Homo sapiens: one gene and its partner. The protein of the gene in region 2 interacts with the protein of the main gene of each other region in a pairwise test. Each region holds a gene or a part of one and is shown on either strand. Other genes may lie near its edges.

Evidence for each region. The genes of interacting proteins can lie anywhere in the genome.
Region 1: the proteins of OSBPL8 (region 2) and BTG3 interact in a two-hybrid assay, tested with the Homo sapiens proteins (one large-scale study listed by BioGRID and IntAct).

The regions. Positions count from the first base shown.
Region 1 is NC_000021.9:17,594,745-17,599,930, forward strand, and holds part of BTG3 (protein BTG3), read right to left. Parts: intron 4,081-5,186; coding exon 3,873-4,080; intron 1-3,872. UniProt on the Homo sapiens protein: Overexpression impairs serum-induced cell cycle progression from the G0/G1 to S phase.
Region 2 is NC_000012.12:76,388,002-76,393,187, reverse strand, and holds part of OSBPL8 (oxysterol-binding protein-related protein 8), read left to right. Parts: intron 1-435; coding exon 436-607; intron 608-2,530; coding exon 2,531-2,768; intron 2,769-3,358; coding exon 3,359-3,543; intron 3,544-5,186. UniProt on the Homo sapiens protein: Lipid transporter involved in lipid countertransport between the endoplasmic reticulum and the plasma membrane: specifically exchanges phosphatidylserine with phosphatidylinositol 4-phosphate (PI4P), delivering phosphatidylserine to the plasma membrane in exchange for PI4P, which is degraded by the SAC1/SACM1L phosphatase in the endoplasmic reticulum.

The DNA.
Region 1 (5,186 bases), on a different chromosome or scaffold from region 2:
CAGAAAATCAACTACCGCATGTTCTCACTTATAAGTGGGAGGTAATGATAAGAACTTATGAACACAAAGAAGGAAACAATAGACATTGGAGTCTATTTGAGAGGGGAGGGTGGGAGAAGGAAAAGGAGCAGAAAAGATAACTATTGAGTACTGGGCTTCACACCTGGGTGATGAAATAATATGTACAACAAATCCCTGTGACACATGTTTACCTATGGAACAAACCTTCATGTGTATCCCTAAACCTAAAATAAAAGTTAAAAAAAAAAAAAGATAAACACAAAACATTCATGCCCTAGCACTGGTCTAATGAACAATAATAAAATCTCAGAACTAGAGGCCAGGTATTTTGACAAAGCTCCCCAGGTGATTCTGATGTAGCCAGTTTAGTATTTGGGAATAATAGTTTTAGATTATCCCATAAATCAGGTGGGCACGTCAGGTTCACATTATTCAAAGTGTTCTTATCAGCAGTTTTAGACCTCTCTGCTTAGAATGCCACATCTTCTTAAATTTCTGATTTTGCTGATCTCAAATCTGCATTTCTAAGTATAGGATTTTTTTAAAAAAATTATATTGTGTATAGCATTGCATTCATGATAGAAAATTCAAAAAGTACAAAAGGGTAAACTGTGGAAAGTCCCTCTTTTTTTATCTCACCCTTTATCTTCTTTATCTTAACCCTTCTCAAGGGCAACTGACACCAAACATTTTTTTAAATATACCTTTAGAGATATTCTATCCACATCTATACACACTTTAAAAATATATATGTATACTGGATTGTATCCTGCTTTTTACATTTCATAATAATACATTTCAGAAACATATCAATACATAAAGATCCTTCTCATTTTTCTACAGCTAGATAGTATAGCAATGACTATAAATTAAATGGTCTCCTAGTAATGGGACATTGAGGCTGTTTTCAGTCTCTTACTATTAAAAAAACAATGATACACAACGAACAAAACAATGCTGCAATGAATAACAGCACAGTTAATTCTAATAGAAGGCTTTATAGGCATATTTTCGTTTCTTTTGGTAAATATTTAATACTTAGGAGTGGAACTGCTGAGTAATAGAAGAGTTACACATTTAACGTTAAAAAGTTCCAGTTTTCCAAAGTAGTGGTACTATTTTACATGACTAGCAAGTTTATGAATCTAGCTGCTTCACATCCTTGCTAACATTTCATGCTGTCAGGCTTTTAAATTGTGCAGTTCTGGAAGAACTAGTGTTTCATATGGATTTAATCTGCATTCCTCTGATCATAAATGAGGCCATTCACATAACTCCTTTTGTAAAGTGTTTATTCACATCTTTTGCTCCTCCTGCCCTTTTTTTGAGATTACAGCAGGATATGCCCATTATTTTTCATTGAATCATTTACCTTTTACTAGTGATTTGTGAGCGATTTTAAAAAAAGTATATTCTGGAAATAAGTCCTTTACAGATATATGTAATGAGAATATTTTGTCCTAGTCTATGGTTTGCCCATTTTCTTAATGGTTTCTTTGATGAACAAAAAGATGATTAATTTTGATGAAGTCCAGTTTGTCAATTTTTTTCCCTTATTAGTTACTTTTTGTGACCCTCTAGAGGAAATATTTGCCTGTCACAAAATAAAGATTATATTTCCCTATGTTTTCTTCTAAAAGCGTCAGAGATTTATCTTTTATGTCTAGGTACACAATCCATCTCAAATCAATATTTTTGTGTATGGTGTCAGCTAAGTTAGGTTCGTTTTTTTTCCTACACAGATCATCCAGTTGTTTCAGCACAAGTTCTTGAAGACTTTCCCCATTGAATTGCTTTGGCACTTTTGTTAAAAGGGAGAAAAAAGACTAACTGTATGTATGTGGGTCTACTTCTGGACTCTCTATCCTGTGCCATCAATATATTTGTATGTTTTTAAACCATTACCACACTGTCTTGATGAATATATAATAGCTTTGAATTAGTGTGAGCCCTCCAACTGATCCTCCTTTTTTAAAATTTTGAATCAATTTGTCACTTTCCAGAAAAAAACCTTTTAAGATGTTCATTGATACTGAATTGGATCTACAGATCTATTTCAGGAGAACTGACACAATCTTCATTTCTTCGTTTTTTAAGATATGAATAATTCTTTATCCCCTCTCTTGGGATACCTTTTAGAAAACAGTAGAGAACAAAAATTCCAAGCTAGAAATTTTGTTGTCCTTATTTGATAAAACTTTTTTAAAGCTTGTGGCAATGCCAGATTCAAGATACTAGAAAGAAGAAAATCAAAGTGGGCCATTTGCACTAGCTTTCACACAAGTAGTGTTTCTCTATTATAAAATGTTTTGCTAATGAGTATTAGGCCAAGGAGAAATGTTTTCCTTAAAAAGCACGTAAGAGACACCTCAATTTCCATACCTTTCTGTTATCCTAATAGTCTTTCAACATGAGGGAAAATAAATGCAATTTAATTTTAAAAGAAATCCTAAAAATTAAAGGTTAATTTGCTTGTAAAAAATTAGCAGCAATCAATTTAATTTGAGACTTACATTCTTGCTTAACAACAAATAAAATTCTGAGGTAAAATTGCCACACATTTGGATGAATTCCAGAAAATTCAATATACCTAATTTGCAATATATAATCCATCACACAGAGAAAAAAAATGCCTCAAATATTTATGGCAAGGTTTTTAAAAATGATCCTGAAGTACAAATACTATGTTTACTTATTTATATAGGGAATGTCTCTGGAAGGATACTAAAAAAAAGAAAAAAAAACCTGGTAATGAATGTCTCTGTGGAAATGCATAGGGACTGGTGGTTGGGGAGAAAGAGGACTTCTCACTATTATACTGTCTTGTACTGTTTGAAGTTTCATAAAGCCAGGTACATGTTATATACATATACATATACATACACATATACATAGAATCCTAAATTATGATAATCTTCAGAAATAATCTTCCCCTAAAGTCTAGGAAGAATAATTCAACTGAGAAAAAAATGAGAAAACCAAAAATTAAGTTACACTGAAATAATGTTCATTATGTAAATGTATGCTGAATTTAAAAGTTTAGTTTATCATACTAAAAGCTCCAATATTCTGCTTCTTACTCATTAGGTCTAAATTTTCATTTTCAGCTCAACCTTACCACAAACCTGGTATGTTTCACATTTAATCAAAGCAAGTAAGTAAAAATAGATAACCTTTAAAAATTAGTAATAAGTACATTTACAGAATAAGGCTCAACTCAAAAAATCTCTTTAAATTGTTATGACTTTAAAATATCTTTCCTGTTGAAGAATGCTGTTTGGTCAACAATTTTTTAAAGTCGATTAAATGTTCTTTGGTATGTAGATATAAATAGTAAATCAGTGAATGGATCTGTAAGTGCAGGCACACTAGCTATATGACTTTTCAACTAGTAAAGCAAAAAGGGAGACAATGTTTCAGCTTGAGTAAAATATTAATTATAATATAATAAATTTAGAGAGGTTTCTCTTTAATCATGGAACGGGAGAGAATAGAAAGTTAAACCCAAAGGTACAAAACAAAGTGTTACATACTACAAAAAATAAGTGGTAACTTTTGAATGAGATTTTAAAATATCAGGAATGTTTTACCATCATGAATTTTCTACTTTTTGCCAATTTTTCTGAAATATATTTATCCTAGTTATTGTATAGTGAAGCTGACCTTTGATAAAATGACTCAGGATGCCTATTTACGTGCCAGAGAAACAGCTTTCCCTTAGCATGGGGAAAGGCAAGAACTATTATCCAGAATCTCAAGTCAGAAACCTTGGGCAATGCCAAGTAGGACTACCTGAAAGGTCCTGGCAATCCCTGCACATCCCTTTAAAACTGAGCTGTTTTCATGGTTACCTGGTACACAGGACTTGCGGCTGCAGTCACCGAACTGGGTTTCACTTCCATTTCCTTACTTGTTTCTTCATCTGAAGAAGAGGATCCTGAATGATAATCAGAGGTAACCTTATCAAGGGCCCTGGTAACTTTCCTGGAGATCTCATCCTTGTTCTCATCTTTATTTTCAAAGCTGGCAACAATGAATGCATTGTTTTTCTCTCCATACCTAAGAATAAAATTAAAAACTTACAAATCTTGAAGTCACATCAGCAAAGCAAAAAATGTCCATAAAAACAAAGAGATCTGGACATGCCATCAATACAAGGCAAAGATTGAATCATCACAGAACTTGACCCTACACATTTAATATCCTAATACAGCTCAATGCCAGCAAGCAAACCACAGTTTTCTACTTCTGGTCTATTTAAGTATTCATAAACATAACCCCATTTTCTTTCCCTTATTTTCTTTCTACTAATTCCTAAAAAAAAAATTGTTTAAAACATCAAAAAAAGTCCATTGTTTTGATTACATTTTTGTATGTACCAATGAAATTGGTTGTACAATAAAACATTCTGATGTATTTTTATTTTTTTGAGATGGGTTTCACTCTGTTGCCCAGGCTGGAGTGCAGTGGCACAATCACAACTCACTGCAGACTCTACCTCCTGGGCTCAGGTGATCGATCCTCCAACTTCAAACCTCCCAAGAGGCTGGGACTACAGGAGTGTACCACCATGCTCAGCTAATTTATATACATTTTTAGAGACAGGGTTTCACCATGTTGCTGAGGCTGGTCCCAAACTCCTAGGCTCAAGAGATCCACCCACTTCAGCTACCCAAAGTGCTAGAATTACAGGCATGCGCCACTGGCTGATTTTTTTTTTTTTTTTTTTGAGACGGAGTCTCACTCTGTTGCCCAGGCTGGAGTGCAATGGGTGCAATCTCGGCCCACTACAATCTCCACCTCCCAGGTGTTCAAGTGATTCTCCTGCCTCAGCCTCCTAAGTAGCTGGGATTACAGGTGCCCACCACCACGCCCAGCTAATTTTTGTATTTTTAGTAGAGATGAGGTTTCACCATGCTGGCCAGGCTGGTCTTGAACTCCTGACCTCAGGTGATCCACCCGCCTCGGCCTCCCAAAGTGCTGGGTTTATAGGCGTGAGCCATCACGCCCAGCCCCAGCTGTACTTATAAATGTAACATATATGCTAGTAATTCAAGTCACAGATCAACTAGAAATTTCCTATAAAATTGACTTTAACCCCAATTAAATAAAAAAGGGGGCCTGTTATTTATACTCACAAAAATGAGAACTGAGGCAGTTATTGA
Region 2 (5,186 bases):
AAAAGTTTCATACATACAAGTAGAATGGTTGTTAATCTTGAGGATAGACCTCCTATTAACAAAAACAGTTACTTCAGATAGTTTGTTTGTAGTAGAATCATAAATCCTCAAGTGTATTTTATGTACCTTGCTTGATACCTTCAAATTATACTGCATGTTAATGTTCTAAGATTTGAAAAATAAAGTATGTTTATTTTAGATTGGGTATAGTTTCTAATGCATGCTGTATACTATTCATTTATCAGTGGTGTGCTTAGTATGTGAAAAGCATTTGAAAAACGGAAAGATTTCATTAAATTCTAGCAAGATGTTATGTTCAGATTAACTTTTCCAGTGCATGTTTCTCAAAGAAATAGTGGTAACAGGGTAAGTTAAGATGCATGCTAGTTTCATAGTTTTAAAAATTATAGTGCTTATGAATCTGTGTTCTTTTAGGAAGGTGCTGGATGGATGCTTTGGAGTTGGCTTTGAAATGTTCTAGTCTTCTTAAACGTACAATGATCAGAGAAGGAAAGGAACATGACCTGAGCGTTTCATCAGATAGCACACATGTGACTTTCTATGGCTTACTACGTGCTAACAATCTCCACAGTGGTGATAACTTCCAGTAAGTAGATACTGCCGCTGAGTTGGTAATGTTTCAGAGACCATACTGTTCACAAAATTAGTTGGCAGGCCTAGAATTTTAGTAGTGTATCTAGGACTGAAATTTGCATATCTTCCCATTATATGGCCTAGGAACCGGCTTAAAATTTGTTTAGCTGCTATAATCAGGTGTAGAAATGTATTTCCTTGATTCCAGCCAACGTGATTTACTTTATCTTTCCCAAATATAGCCATGCTAATTATTCACCTTGTCTGTGCATGATGTCCCTTCTATTAAGAATGATTTCTGCCTACTCCTCCTTACGCTTTTCTCCTGTCTATATATTCTTCAAGATCAGTCTCAAATATTACATCATGTGTGAAACCTTATAACTATGAGACATAATCTGTCTTTCTATAGAGTAACATGTTTTTAGTAATGGCACTGGACTTAACTCTACCTGGTATTTGTGAAATTCATTTATATTTCTGTTTGGAATGGAACTGTATCCTATTTGTGGTTTTATTCCCTGAAGCATTTATTGTAGTTAACACTAAAAAAGCATTTCTCCAAGGAAACTGGGCAGTAGTGCAAAGACTTTCTTGAGATTCAGGTCTTTTTGTTGCTTTGCAGGAAAAACATTAGACTTTTCTATTTCCTCCCTGTCCCCACCCCTTGGCTTCTGCTCTGTAACCACTTTCATCAGCATTGAGGTTGCTCTTCTCAAAGTTAGACTGCTATTCTCCTCTTCTTCATATTGCCTGATTTAGACATTTCTTCCCTATCATTTTGCTTGTTTCTTTTTTTTTTCTGTCTGTATTACTTTAAAAAATTTTTTAGAGCCAGGGACTCACTCTGTTGCCCAGGCTGCAGTGCAGTGGCACAATCATAGCTCACTGTAACCTGGAACTCCTGGGCTCAAGCCATCTTCCAGTCTCAACCTGCCCAGTAGTGAGAACTACAGGCCTGTATTACCACACTGGGCTGGCTGGCTGGCTTATCTATTTATTTATTTATTGAGACATAGTCTCACTATGTTGCCCAGGTTTTTTTTCTTTTCTTTTTTCCCCCACTCTCTTTAAAATCTCCATTACCTGACCTTTTATGTTATTTCTTTGCAGACCTACGATCTGGAGCTTTATCTTAATCCCAAGTACCTGGTGCCCGAATGAGATAGGATGGAATGGGGTGGGCTACTGATAGAGGAATGGGTATTTGTTGGAACCTCTTTCCAAGACTTTCCCCCTTTTGTACAGATTTTTTGCCCTAATCACTTTAAGTGAGAATAGGGTAGATTAAGCAAAACTTACTTGATTTTAGTCCATAGGTTAATTTCTTTCAGCTGAAATTTTCATTTTTAATTCTCTCTGGATTTTGGCTCAGGATTAAACCTTTCAGACGAATAGAATTTAATATAATTGTTTATCATTTACCATTTTCATATATTTTTCTTGGACTCATGTGAGGTGACTTTGGAAACCTTCTTATACAGGTGGAAAGTCATAATTTATTTGAGTTCAGTTGAGAATCTGATTATCTGGACCTGCATTTTTTCTTCATACCATAAGTGACAGTGAGATTGATGCAAGTGATGCTGTTTGAAAAACTAAGAAAAATATCTAACAAGAAGTCTAAACTCTTGGTTTTGGAGGATTTTAGCCCCAAGTGGTAGAGAGGCAAAGAGCTCAGAGTGTCATCTTTTTGCATTTCTCTAGGTTTTTAATTTTTCTATGCCTCTGTTTACTAATCTGTAAAATGAGAATAATAATACTACCTATCTCATAGGGTTATTTTGAAGATTAAGTGAATTAACACTATGTAAAACACTTAGAACACTGTCTGGCACATAGTAAATTCTCAATAAATGTTGTATATAATTATTATTTATGAATTGAGCATTCTTAACATCCTTGATTCTTCCTCCTAAAAATTCTTTCCCTTAAGGTTAAATGATAGTGAAATTGAACGACAACATTTTAAGGACCAAGATATGTATTCTGATAAATCTGATAAAGAAAATGATCAAGAACATGATGAGTCTGATAATGAGGTGATGGGGAAAAGTGAAGAAAGTGACACAGATACATCAGAAAGACAAGATGACTCATATATCGAACCTGAGCCTGTTGAGCCTTTAAAGGAGACTACCTACACTGAACAGAGCCATGAAGAACTTGGAGAGGTAAAAGTCTGCTATTTTTAGAGGTTCTGGATTTTCATATTCTTGGGAATTCTTAAATGAAATTGAAGATATTATTTGCTTGATCTATTGCCTATTTTTCTGTGATAGAATGTGATATTTTAAAAATTGCATACATATGAAATATATTGGGATTTACAAACAACTAAACACATATACTCACATAAATACCAATATATTCTATTAAATTTAAAGTTTACATTTTCTTCAAGCTTGATTTTGAAGTAGGATATTGCTTGATGTCATTGCCAGGTGCAAAGTTGCAAGGAAACGTGAGTTTATAACTTTGTTATTGCCAGTGCATCATAGAAGTAAATGTAGTATAAAATAATAGGCTATAATATTTTTGTAGTGGATCTCTTGTATATATTGTTCACTTTGATGTCTTTTTCAGCTACCCTTTTTTACCTAAGTTTTATAGCTATAGATTTTATTATTATTTTTTGTTTCCACATTTAAAGAATGCTTGGAGTAGTCCTGAGAAGAGTTCATATTTTCAACATTAGCTGGCTTGTTTACATATCTGTCTGAAATAAATATAATGTTTTGGTAATTTTCATTAATTGATAAAGGCAGGTGAGGCTTCTCAAACAGAAACTGTATCTGAAGAAAACAAAAGCCTTATCTGGACACTATTGAAACAAGTCCGTCCTGGCATGGACCTATCCAAGGTGGTTCTGCCTACATTTATTTTGGAACCCCGTTCTTTCCTGGATAAACTTTCAGATTACTACTATCATGCAGATTTCCTATCTGAGTAAGTAGATTCTTATTTCTTAAAATAGACAATACTTCATGATTTTAGAAATTCTCAAGAATGCTATTTTCAATTATCGTTTGTTTCCAAAATCAGGCTCTAATGAGACATCACTCTCTGTTCTCTACCACTTCTGTGGTTGACCCTTAGTAAGAAGCATGTTTGATACTTTGCTATAATGTTGCCATTTATGAAGTTAAATTGAGATATCATAAGCTCGAGGAAAACAAGAATTCTACCCTTTACTCAACAACACTGCCGTTATAGGCTCCTTAACCTCAGTTCACTAACCTAACAGAGAGAGAGAGGTGATTGGCATCATTTGTTCTCCTCTACAAAAACACTTGTTCAGTCCCATCCTGGGGCATCTGTGTTTGCTCATACTTGTCTGTCTGCATGCTTGTGAGGTATGTACGGCTTACCAGAACTAGAATGCCCTGCCAGTTGCTAGCTTTTGGAACAAATCCTTATTTTCTTTGCTTTTCTGAAGCCGCCAGCTGATCCTGGGTGTAATTTTGAAGAAGGCACACCTAAAGGAGGCAGAGGAGGTGCTATCCACCTCTGTCCCAGCAATTTCTTGGAAAACCAGTAAACTTTGCAAGGAACAGCAACTTTGTGTCCATGCTTCCAATTCTTACCTGATGCCCCTATTCCAGCAATAATGGTGTTTCAAGGCACTGTGCTTTCTGTGCCACTGATATCTGGCCCTGCGACCTAATTTTTAGAATCTTTATCAAGACTTATTTTCGGTTTTTGTCTATAAATGGCATGAGCGAACATTGAAAAAAATAAGCTGAGTCAAAAAATAATTGGTAAACTGGGAAATTTTTGCAAATTTCATCGTAGACAAAATGTTAACCTCCCTAAAAAAAGCTCTTAAAAATTGAATGAAAATGATTCTATAGAAAAGGAAACTTACAGAAAAAGGAGTGGAAGAAATTACTGGGCAGTTGGAAAATGAAGAAATAGGAACAGTCCTTAAACATGTAAAAACCTCATGCAAAATAAGGAAAATGTACATTTGAATTATAGTAAGTTATTGTTGTTTATCCACCACATTGACAAAAAGTCAAAAAGCTTTTATATCCTCGTTCTAATATCTTCTGCACTTTTGTCGGTCTAGAAATTCATTTCTCTCAGAATGTAAGGCAAATTCCTGTGAATCACAAGATTTTCTTGAGAGATGCCCCCTGTCTCAAATAGAAAGATTGTACTTTTCTGGCATTACACACTGTTGCCAAGATTCTGTTGGCAATCAGGGACTATCATACACTACCGTGGGCAGTGCAGACTAGCACAGCACCCTGAAGGTAATCTGGCAGTATTTACCAAAAGTATAGATGCATTCATCATTTGATCCACTAATCTCACTTCTCGGAATAACTCCTACAGATATAATGCCACATATACAGAATGGCATATATACAAGATTGTTGCAGCAGGGTTTGTAATAATAAAACATTAGATATAACTCCAGTGTCCAGCACAGTGTACTGGTTAAACAGTGTGTGATACATCCACCCATATAAGGAAGAATTCCATAAACTGATCTGTAGGGACCTCCAGAATTGTGTGTGAAAAAAGCAAGGTGTACAGAAGAGTATGTATAGTTTGCAACCCTTTTTTAAGAAAAGCAAGACTGT